Linked DNA regions of Homo sapiens: region 2 is linked to region 1. A link means that fine-mapping ties the variant in region 1 to the expression of a gene that starts in the linked region. Tissue or cell type: fibroblasts. Region 1 holds a variant in brackets; the other region holds the start of a gene. All regions are shown on one strand. Distances are between the middles of the regions. Region 1 overlaps ZNF749 (zinc finger protein 749). Region 2 holds the start of ZNF772 (zinc finger protein 772).

Evidence for each region.
Region 2: it holds the start of ZNF772, and the variant in region 1 is fine-mapped to the expression of ZNF772 in fibroblasts (GTEx, PIP 0.91).

The regions. Positions count from the first base shown.
Region 1 is chr19:57,447,064-57,452,450 of GRCh38, reverse strand. ZNF749 (zinc finger protein 749) reads right to left here. Exons shown (of 3, transcript NM_001023561.4): 3 at 5,350-5,387. Among named protein-coding and RNA genes, the nearest start is that of VN1R1, 7.4 kb to the left of the region's middle. The variant T/A (reference allele first, on the strand shown) is at 3,030.
Region 2 is chr19:57,475,149-57,480,535 of GRCh38, reverse strand. It overlaps ZNF772 (zinc finger protein 772), which reads left to right and starts at 2,970. Exons shown (of 4, transcript NM_001144068.2): 1 at 2,970-3,259; 2 at 3,864-3,902; 3 at 4,750-4,876. The coding sequence starts at 3,227. RefSeq lists enhancers at 2,456-3,655, 3,246-3,769.

The sequences.
Region 1 (5,387 bases):
TCTGGTGAGGGCCTTGTTACTCTGTCATAATATGACAGAAGGGCAAGTGAGCATGAAAGACAGAGACAGCTGATTTTATAAAAACGTCACTCTCGGGTTAACAAACCCACTCTTATGATAAAGGCATTGATTCCTTTATAAGGGCAGAGCCATCATGACCTAATCACCTCTTAAAGGTCCCATTTCTCCACACTGTTAAAATGGCAATTAAAATTCAACATACGTTTTATAACGCCAGAGACACAAGAATCCATAACACCTTTGGATTACTTGCTCTGACAATGACTTTGCCTACAGGAGATACACACGTCTGTAGGTCCTCAGAGTTTCTGTATACCCTCATCTCACATAGCCATAGTTACTGAAACATTCATGGATGTCTCTTTACAAGGCGCTCATCCATTCCACTCTAGTTTGCTGGTGTCTCATACTTCATATTAATACAATCACTGTTTCTGTACAGACTATGGTTCCCAAACTGCTTGCTATGGTTTGACCATCTCCTCCAAAAGTCACATTGAAGCTTAATCTACAGTGTGGTAGTACTGAGAGGTGCGACCTTTAAGAGGTGATTGAATCATGAGGGCTCTATCCTCAGGAATGAATTAATCAATTTATGGGTTGATAGACTAATGGGTTATCCTGGGAGAACTGGTGGTTTTATAAGAAGAGAAAGGGCCAGGGGCCGTGGCTCTTGCCTGTAATCCCAGCACTTTGGGGGGCCAAGGCGGGCAGATCACCTGAGGTCAGGAGTTCGAGACCAGCCTGATCAACATGGGAGAAACCCTGCTCTACTAAAAATAAAAACTTAGCGGGGTGTGGTGGCACATGCCTGTAATCCCAGCTACTCAAGAGGCTGAGACAGAAGAATTGCTTGAACCCGGGAGGCAGAGGTTGCGGTGAGCCAACCCAGGAAGCGGAGGTGCAGTGAGCCAAGATCGCGCCATTGCACTCCAGCCTGGGCGATAAGAGCGAAACTCCGTCTCAAAAAAAAAAAAAAAAAAGAGAGAGAATGATTTGCGCTAGCACGTTAACATGTGAGCACACTCAGCAGCCTCACCATGTGATGCCCTGTACCACCTTGGGACTTTTTGCACAGTCTACCAGCAAGAAGGCTCTTACCAAATGCGGCCACTCAACCTTGGACCTTTCAACCTCCATAACTGTAAGAAATAGATTTTTCTTTATAAATAACCCAGTTTCAGGTATTATTTTATAAGCAATGGACAACAAACTAATGCACTCTTACATTTTACATCCAGGAACATAACCTACATCATTTTTGGGTTCAAGACACATAGCTCATAAGGCACATCACAGGAGCAAGCTATCCCTAAACAATACTGGAGAATATGGGACATGCATGGGTACAAATACCCAGCTCTCACAGCTGCCATAAATCCTGACAGTTGTCAAACCAATTGTCCTGGCTGCAAGCTGACTGTGCAACCATAAATAATCTTCAAATTCAGGGTAAAGGATTTTGGATAGAAATCCTTCTTTTTCCCAGGAACCTTCTGAAGCAATATACATCAGGCGTTTGTGGATTGAGTTGTTTTTTTTTTTTTTTTTTTGGTTTTTTTGTTTTTGCTATTTCCTTGGAAGTACATAAAATTGAAAACCTCACAAAACCACTCACTTTTTCATTTTGGCAGACTCCAATTTTGCTCTCAACCCACAGCACACAGAGAATAAAACTGCAATGAGTAAATGTAGCTTAAACAATGACTTTATCATCACTAAAACCAGTATAGTCACGTGGAAATTGACTGGGTTTGGGCAGCTTGGAAGGTGAAAAATCTATCACCAACATTATAAGACAAGCAATAATACCCATGAAGAAAGGAAAATCTTTACAAGCTGCCAGCTCAAGCCAGCCTGTATCCTCTGTCCAAAGTTGGATGATGTCTGCACCCAAACCAGCCATGGAAGTGGGAATGAGGCCTCGCCCGAAGGGATCAGACTCAATAACTCCAGATAAAGGTAGAGAGCACAGCTATCTGCCCTCCCTAAGCATTTTAAGGTGATACACACTGTGATATCAGCTAATAGTGGATGGAAGTCTTTTGTAGTACACACTTTCAGTGACTTAACACTGGCAAGGATCCCAGGCAGGTCAGAAAGTGCAAGGTAATTCACAAAAGCTTCTCATATAGCAGACAATTACAACAAACCTCCCTTGTGTGGATGTTTGGATGTAAGATTCCATTTCTGGTTGAGGTCTCCCTCACAAAAGCTAATATCCACAGCTTTACTATTTTATCTGCTGGCAAAAGCACTTTGCCTGCCTGCATTCCTAAGGTCTTTCTCCAAGATGGTTTACTGGTGCTGAATGAGGTTAATGGCTGAAGACTTTCCAACATTCGCTGCACTCATGATACCCTTCTGGGTATGTAGTTTTAAGATTTAGAAGTTTTCTTGATGTCAGGACATGACATGACAGATAGATGAAAGGTGGAGCATGTTGTAACTTACAACTCAGAACCAGAGGACATGATTCAGGGCTGCACCGGAGTTGTGAAGGAATATAGATAGTAATACAGCAAACTGGAGTTGTAGGAGGCAGCTTGTGTGTGGCAAGTGGATTCGGGTTAGCTAGATTTTCTGGGCTTTCTATACTTGGCCAATTTGAGTAATTTTACACATTTCAGGGCATAGGAGTTGTCCCCAGATGTCTGATACCTGCTCCTGGGGTGACTGGGGCTGATATATATTGACCCAGAGTTTGACAGCCTGTTAAGGAAAGTGGTTGGAAGTGTACTTAATCAGCTGTTCCAAATGTAGCACTGTCAAGCCTCTAGCAAGGGCCTCAACAGTGGACAGAAACATTATTCTTTTAAAAGAATTATGTATCAAAACACCTTGGTACTAGCACAAATGCATACATATAGTGGAATAAAGAGGCCAGACGGAAGTCCTCATACTTATGCTCAGATTTTTGACAAGAGCGCAAAAACTTATTAAGGAGTCTTTTCAACAAATGACTTTCAAAAAGCTGGATATCTATATGCAAAAGAATGAAGTTGAAC[T/A]CTTACCTTCCTCCATTTACTAAAACAAACTGAAATAAATCAGACATAAAAGTACAACTTAAAACTATAAAACTCCTAGAAAATAACATGAAAAAAGGTTCATGACACTGGATTTAGCAATAATTTCTTGGGTATAATACCAAAAGCATAGGAAACAAACATAACATATATTGGACTCCATTGAAATTTGAAAACTCCTGTGCAAAAAAAAAAAAAAAAGACATGAACAGAATGAAAAGGAAGCAGACTGAATGGTAGACAGTATTTGAAAAACACATATCTGCAAGGGGTTAATATTTAAAATACGTATACAGAATATGTACATATATAATACGTACATGTTAACCACTCAACAAAGTATATATACTTCACATCATGTTGTACACAACAAAAGCATACAATGTTATCTGAAAATTTACAAAAACTTTCTTCAATGGGCAAAGACATTTAACAGATATTTCTCCAAAGAACCTATACAATTAGTCAACAAGCAAATGAAAAGATGCTCAACACCAATACTGAAATGCAAATTAAAAAACCATAATAAAATAACATCTTACACCCATCATGATTAAAAAACAAAGTGTTGGCAATAATGTGAAAAACTAGAACCCCTGCACTGGTGAGAATGTAAAATGGTGCAGCTGCTATGGAAAATAATTCCCCCCACAATTTAAAATAGAATTAACGGGAAGTGGCCAGGCGTGGTGGCTCACGCCTGTAATCCCAGCACTTTGGGAGGCTGAGGCGGATGGATCACAAAGTCAGGAAGATCAAGACCATCCTGGCTAACACGGTGAAACCCCGTCTCTACTAAAAATACAAAAAATTAGCCGGGCGTGGTGGCGGGCACCTGTAGTCCCAGCTACTTGGGAGGCTGAGGCAGGAGAATGGCGTGAACCCGGGAGGCGGAGCTTGCAGTGAGCCGAGATTGTGCCACTGAACTCCAGCCTGGGTGACAGAGCAAGACTCCGTCTCAAAATAATAATAATAATTATTATTATTATAATTATTATTATTAACGGGAAGCACCATTTCCACTTCTGGGTATATGTCCAAGAAGAATTTAAAGCAGGGCCTCAGGAGGTATTTGTATATTCATGCTCATAGTGGCATTAACAAGAACAGAAGAGTGGAAGCAACCCAAATGTACACTGAAGAAAGAATACAGGAAAAGTGGCATATACATATACCACAGTCATATGCCACACATTTCTGTCTACCATGGACCACATGTATAACAGTAATCCCGTATTATAACAGAGCTAAACAACTCCTATCACCTAGTGCCACCACAGCCACTGTAACTCAATCCCATTACTCAAGTGTGTGTGGTGACACTGGTGTAAACAAACCTACTGGTCTGCCAGTCATATAAAGAGCACAGGCCGGGCGCTGTGGCTCATGCCTGTAATCCCAGCACTTTGGGAGGCCGAGATGGGCGGATCATGAGGTCAGGAGTTGGAGACCAGCCTGGCCAACATAGTGAAACCCCATCTCTACTAAAAATACAAAAAATTAGCCGGGCATGCTGGTGGGCACCTGTAATCCTAGCTACTCGGGAGGCTGAGGCAGGAGAATCGCTTGTACCCGGGAGGCGGAGGTTGCAGTGAGCCAAGATCACACCACTACACACCAGCCCAGGCAACAGTGCAAGACTCTGTCTCAAAAAAAAAATAAAGCCAGGCGCGGTGGCTCATGCCTGTCATCCCAGCACTCTGGGAGGCTGAGGCGGGCGAATCATGAGGTCAGGAGTTCGAGACCAGCCTGGCCAACATAGTGAAACGCCATCTCTACTAAAAATACAAAAAATTAGCTGAGCGTGGTGGCAGGCACCTGTAATCCTAGCTACTCGGGAGGCTGAAGCAGGAGAATCACTTGAACCCAGGAGGCAGAGGTTGCAGTGAGCCGAGATTGTGCCACTGCACTCCAGCCTGGCAACAGTGCGAGACTCTGTCTCAAAAAAAAAAAAAAAAAAAAAGTGTGAGGCAAGGCTTCAGAAAATATTCCAGAATATTGTTATCATAGGAGATAACAACTCCCTGTTATTGAGCCTGAAAACCTTCTAGTGGGACAAGATGTGGAGGCAAAAGACAGTGATATTAATGATCCTCACCCTCTGTAGGCCTTGACTAATGTGTGTGTCTGTGTCTTCATTTTTAACTTATTTTTTACGAAGTTAAAAAATTAAATAGAAAAAGTTTATAGAATATAAAGGAGTACTTCTATACAGGCTGTATAATGTGTTTGTGTTTTAAGCTATTATTACAAAAGAGTCAAAAAGCTTTTTAAAATTTTAAAAGTTCATGAAGTAAAAACGTTACAGTAGACTAAGGTTAATTTATTACTAAAGAAAAA
Region 2 (5,387 bases), 28 kb before region 1:
AATGCAGGACAGGTTATAACCCTAAACCATGTTATAACACTAAAGTTTGGAGGGAAGCCCTTCCCCCTCTAGCCACCAACATGCTTCTGATTCTCCCAAATAGAACCTGATTTGTGTTGAAGTCATCTTCTGCATGATATGTGGAGAATGAACTAAAGTAGAGAAAAAACTGATGTAGGATACAAGGCAGAAGGCATTGTGTAGCTCAGGAATGTTGGCAGATTGGCCCAAGGGCATGAAATTGGAGGTGTTGAGAAGAAGATGACCTGAGACATATTAGGAGGCAGAGGTAACAGGATATGTGGGTGGTTGGGATGATACGGTGAGGCTCAGGCAATAACATTTCACCTATCAAACCCTCTGTATTTGTGGGCCAGCAGGACTTTTCCTGTTTTGATTCTTGATTGGCATCCAAGGAACCCACGTTTAGGGAATAAATGAAGCTGAAGGTTCATGTTTCTGTGGTGAAGAAAAGGCAAGACACATTCTTGTCCTCATGTCAGCTGCCTGGGACATTGAATTTTTCATAGCCTTGTTTGTCTAACATAGAAAGGGCTCTGAACCTACCCAGATAGATGACCTAGGGTAGGAGGCCATGCTGGGAAGTAGTTAGTCATGGCTCCTTGGACTCCATTGCCAACTATGCCACTTAACAGCTACAGCTGAAAATAAATTATAGACCCAAGAAACCTCAGTTTCCTCATATTAATTTAGGTGACAAATCCACTTTACAGGGCAAAAGTGCGTAGTGTTTATAAAAGGTCTGATAGAATGTCTAGGATATGGACATTATTAAATGTAAATTATTGTCATCCTTATCCCACCCCTGTATGAATAACCAGAAGATGCTGATGATATGCAGTTCCCTGATGACATCTCAGCCCAGTTGGGTGAGTCAAGGGCCTGGTAACCTTCAAGCGTAGGTCTTGGTTTCTCTAAAGCAGATTTTGGACGTTTCTAACTACAACATGATTCTTTTCTTACTGACAGAGTAGGGAGTCTGGGAATGTTAGTTGTGCTTTCAATCACAATTCAAATTCTGTGGAAATTCACTGAAGAAAAGAGAATACCTCGTGAAGCGTGTTTTGGTCCATCAAAAATTACTAACTGCTTATTTGAGTATTTATTGCATAGTCATTTAGGTTTTGCAAAAGTTGTCAAAACCAAAATGAGTAACTTGTGTAAAATAAATAAATAAGTAAATAAATAAATAAAGCCAGGAGGCTGAGAAAAGAGGGCACTCAAACACACATGCTTAAGATAAGAGCTATTACTGTCTCTGAGGGCTCTTAATGCACATATTCCCGTTAAAAGAAGTTTTGACAAGAACTTCTCAAACCGCAGCTTGCTACAGGAGTTACAAGGACAGCTCTAGATGTAGTAGAACACTTGCCTGACAGATTGTCTCCACTAATGAACTGGTGTTAACCTCTGCCATAAACATCTGTGACCAATGTTCTTTTTATCTCAAAACAAATTATATATACTTTTCCCTTTTGCCTTTGAAAGCTTCTCCTTGTTTCAAGCTCTCTGGATATGCCTATAGTCCCTATAGCCTGCATGTCCTGGATTTGCAAATCCCCTGTGCATTCCTGAATGAACTCAACATCTTTGAAGAATCTCTGTTATTTAGGTTGACAGTTTAAATATATCCTACATTGTGCTTTTCTTTGCCTCACTTCTTCCACTTATTTTACTATTATTTTACCTTTCTATTGATTATTTATTTATATTCCAAACATTTCCTCTTCTAGTTTGAAAAGTATATACGCTGACTGTATTTATTATATTTAGGCTAAAAATTACAAACGTTTAACACATTAGCGTGCCATACAGGATTGTAATACATTTGCTTTCCACTTGGAAATATAAAAAATTTAAAACTTTGAGCAACTAGCCTCCTTTCAATTTATATGTAGTTGAGGTTACGCACGGGAATTCCATCATTCTAACTCAATAAGTATATCTACTTATGTTTTACACTGTAATATGCTGTTATTTTAATCAAAAGATGCACTTCTTTTCATCTTCATTTCTTCTCTCATTGCAGACTTTTCACCTGAGATCAACTTTCTTTGGCCTTGAGTATTATTTTAAACATTATTTTTTGTGTAAATGTATTTCCATTACATTTATCATTTTTGGTTTCAAATAGTTTTATATCACACTTCCATAAAAGACATTTTGTTGTGTATAGACATCTAGTTTGGTGGTTATTTCTTCTTTACAGAAAGTGTTCATGTTGCCCTTTTCATTGCCATATGACATTTGATGAATTCTGTCTTTTCAGACACTTGTAAAACACTTAAAATATTGAATACATCTCTGTATATGGAGTATGAAATACTATCTTGAACAAGAGTATTACTTGTTGGGTTTGACACAATCACTGCTGTATAAGCAGGATAAATATTTTCTGAGGTAACAGACAGAAGGGTTATTCACTTACTTCAAGGCCACCAAACATCCCCACTCCACGTTCCACATCATGGTGTCTGGAGTCTTTTCTTTCTTGTGCCTGACAGAAAATGCTGAGGCTCGCCAAACTAACTCTGGAGCATCAGGCTACACGCATTTGAAAACAATATTTGTTAACTTCCAGCCATAGAAATCTGAGTGACGTCAGTGTATGGTGTGTCCATTTTATTTTTTGATGAGCATTCTCTGCGTAAGGAAGGCTGAAATCATGTCTCTAAACATTCCTTTGATGTCAAACACGACGTTCACCAGAAATACAGATATGGCTCCTTCAAGAGGAAGCTAAGCTCCGTCTGGGCCTTGGAGACGAGGGACACCATTTCCACGCGCCCCTGGCGGTCTTCTCTGGGCTTTTAACCTGGAGGTGAAGCGAGACGCCGCTTACTAGTGTTGGTGCCGTGGGAACTACATTACCCAGGAAACTTGGCGGCTCTGGGCCAATGAAAACCCAGGAAATAGGCGTTTCCGTTGGTCCTCACCAACGTCAGGGCGGGACTTCCTCTACCATCCTCGGGTGGACATTTTGTTTGCTTTTCCATTAATCCACTGGTTTAGTTTCCAGAACGCAATGTCAGACCTGAGGTGACAGAAAAGGGAAAACGTGAGAGAGTGTCTTCTTCCCTGAAGAGAGGTGGGCCTGAGGCTTGACAGTGGCGCTGCCTGAGTGACCTAGCCGCTGGGCTGGGCCCTGGACAGCTGATCCCAGGTTCCTGCACTTGTCGCCACCCTTCCGTAGTCCACAGGCCTGATGGCGGCGGCTGAGCCGATGGGCCCGGCACAGGTGGGTGCTGCGTCTGCGAGTCTGCGCGCTGACCCCCATCTCTGAATCCCAAAGCTTCGAATGAACGATTCCTCGGGTTACTGCAGCTCAGGCCCCTGTATCTAGAACAGTGGGGGCGCTCGTGTTTGGGACCCATTTTGACAGCACGAGTTGAAGGACGTTCCAGGCAGAGAGACCAGTGTATGCAAAGGCTCAGAGATGGTTCACAGCTGGAGCATTTGGGAAAACTGGGCCTTTAGTGTCTGAAAGGATCAGAGCGCTTTATAAGTGATTGCACCTGGAATATCATCCTGAGCAGCTGGGTCTCTATTCTGAGGGTGATGGGAGCCATGGAAGGTTCTGAACAGAGGAGAGCCAGAATCCGAGGGTTTAAAAAGTATTCCATAGACTGCTCATGGAGGGCAGACTCTTGTTGGCCATGGGGGCGGATAATGAGCACTGTTCCGAGCTAACACAGTTAAGAGGTATCCTTGAAGATGGAAGCACAGAGGGTAGACATTCAGCTCCCAGGCACATTGTAACTGGGTAGGAATATGGGATGGGGTTGAGCCTTTGGGGTTCCTTCAAGATTGCTTGACTCGCATAGTCTCCCTCTTCCCCACAGGTTCCCATGAACTCAGAAGTAATTGTGGACCCTATACAGGTGAGGGGAGAATGTCCATGCTCTCACCGATCCCACCCCCACCCAATACGCTCTCCAGCATTGTGGTGTTATATAGAACACTCTCCTGCTACTCTCCGATCTCTTGGGTCTGAGGACTCTGGAGAAGCCCCAAGCCCAGGGTCCTGACTCCGGGCCAGGGGTTTTATGGAGGGGTTTCCATTTCTGCCAACCATTGGAATAAGGTTGGAAGGTTGTTCCAGGCACAGGAACCAGCCTGTGCAAAATACTTAGAGGTGAGACTGAGAAGGGAGTTTTCAAGAAATTGCAGGTCTCTGTCATGTCTGGTGGGAACCAAGAGCAAGGGGGCGGGAATCATCCTGAAATGGCTTAAAGATGATTATGTAGATTGGGAGTTAAAAGAGAATATTCATTTCACAGTGGTAGTGCATTTAGTGAGCCAGGAAAGTGATGGTGGAGAGCCAGAGTTGTGAGATAACTGTGATCCAAAGAGTGATGTACATATGGAAAGAAGTGTAGACTGATGACGTCTGGGCTTAAAGGAGAAAGGCAAGCCCATCTTTGGTTGTCTGGTAAGCATGATGTTAGTGACCCCAGAGGAATTTGCTTACAGAAGGGTGAGGCCCTGTATGCTAAGCACAGAGCTTAGAGGGTGACAACTTCTTCACCTGCCTGTGGTTGCTATGGGTAGACACAGTGATCCATTGGGACCATGAGGCGAGAGAAGACACCAATGACATCTGGTCCTGATATTTCCTGAGTTGAGGAGTTAGGTAGGAGGGTGTACAGGAGGGAGATGTGTGGGGGCACGGATGGGGGTTCTTGGGAGAGATGCTGCTCATGGACTTGGCTCTCCTGATTGTGGCAGGGGCAGGTGAACTTTGAGGACGTGTTCGTGTACTTCTCCCAGGAGGAGTGGGTGCTCCTTGATGAGGCTCAGAGGCTCCTGTACCGTGATGTGATGCTGGAGAACTTTGCACTTATGGCCTCTCTGGGTAAGGCCGTCACATCCACCCCAGTGACTTGGACTGGGTCCTGCCCTTCCCCTTTTTTTCAGGGCATCTTTGTCCTTCCTACATCAGAGCCGTGGACACTGTCTCATTTCTTAGTGCCTGGAGTAGGTTCTGTGAGTGCTGGGCTTGGGCTGTTTGCACTCCTACTTTCTCCTTTTGAGCATTCCCAGCGCTTGCTGTCTCAGAGCCTTGCAGGCATGGATTCAGGAGTTATGCATTGTATTGTCAGCCCAGTGGGTCATATCCATCTTGTCCTTTCCCTGTCTGAATTCCTCTGTCTGTATCCATGACACCTCTGTGCCTGGGATTCTGCGCTCTTCCTTTAGCTGACATTTCCTGTGGCCTGCCTATGTCAGGAATTGTAGGGACCATTATGGTCGCTACTTGCTAGGACCACTGCACTATTCCTGCAAGACCTTACTCTGAGATTATTTTAATAATATTTAGTTTTCTATATGGGTTACCCAGACCAGTGCTGTTCTATCTTTCCCTT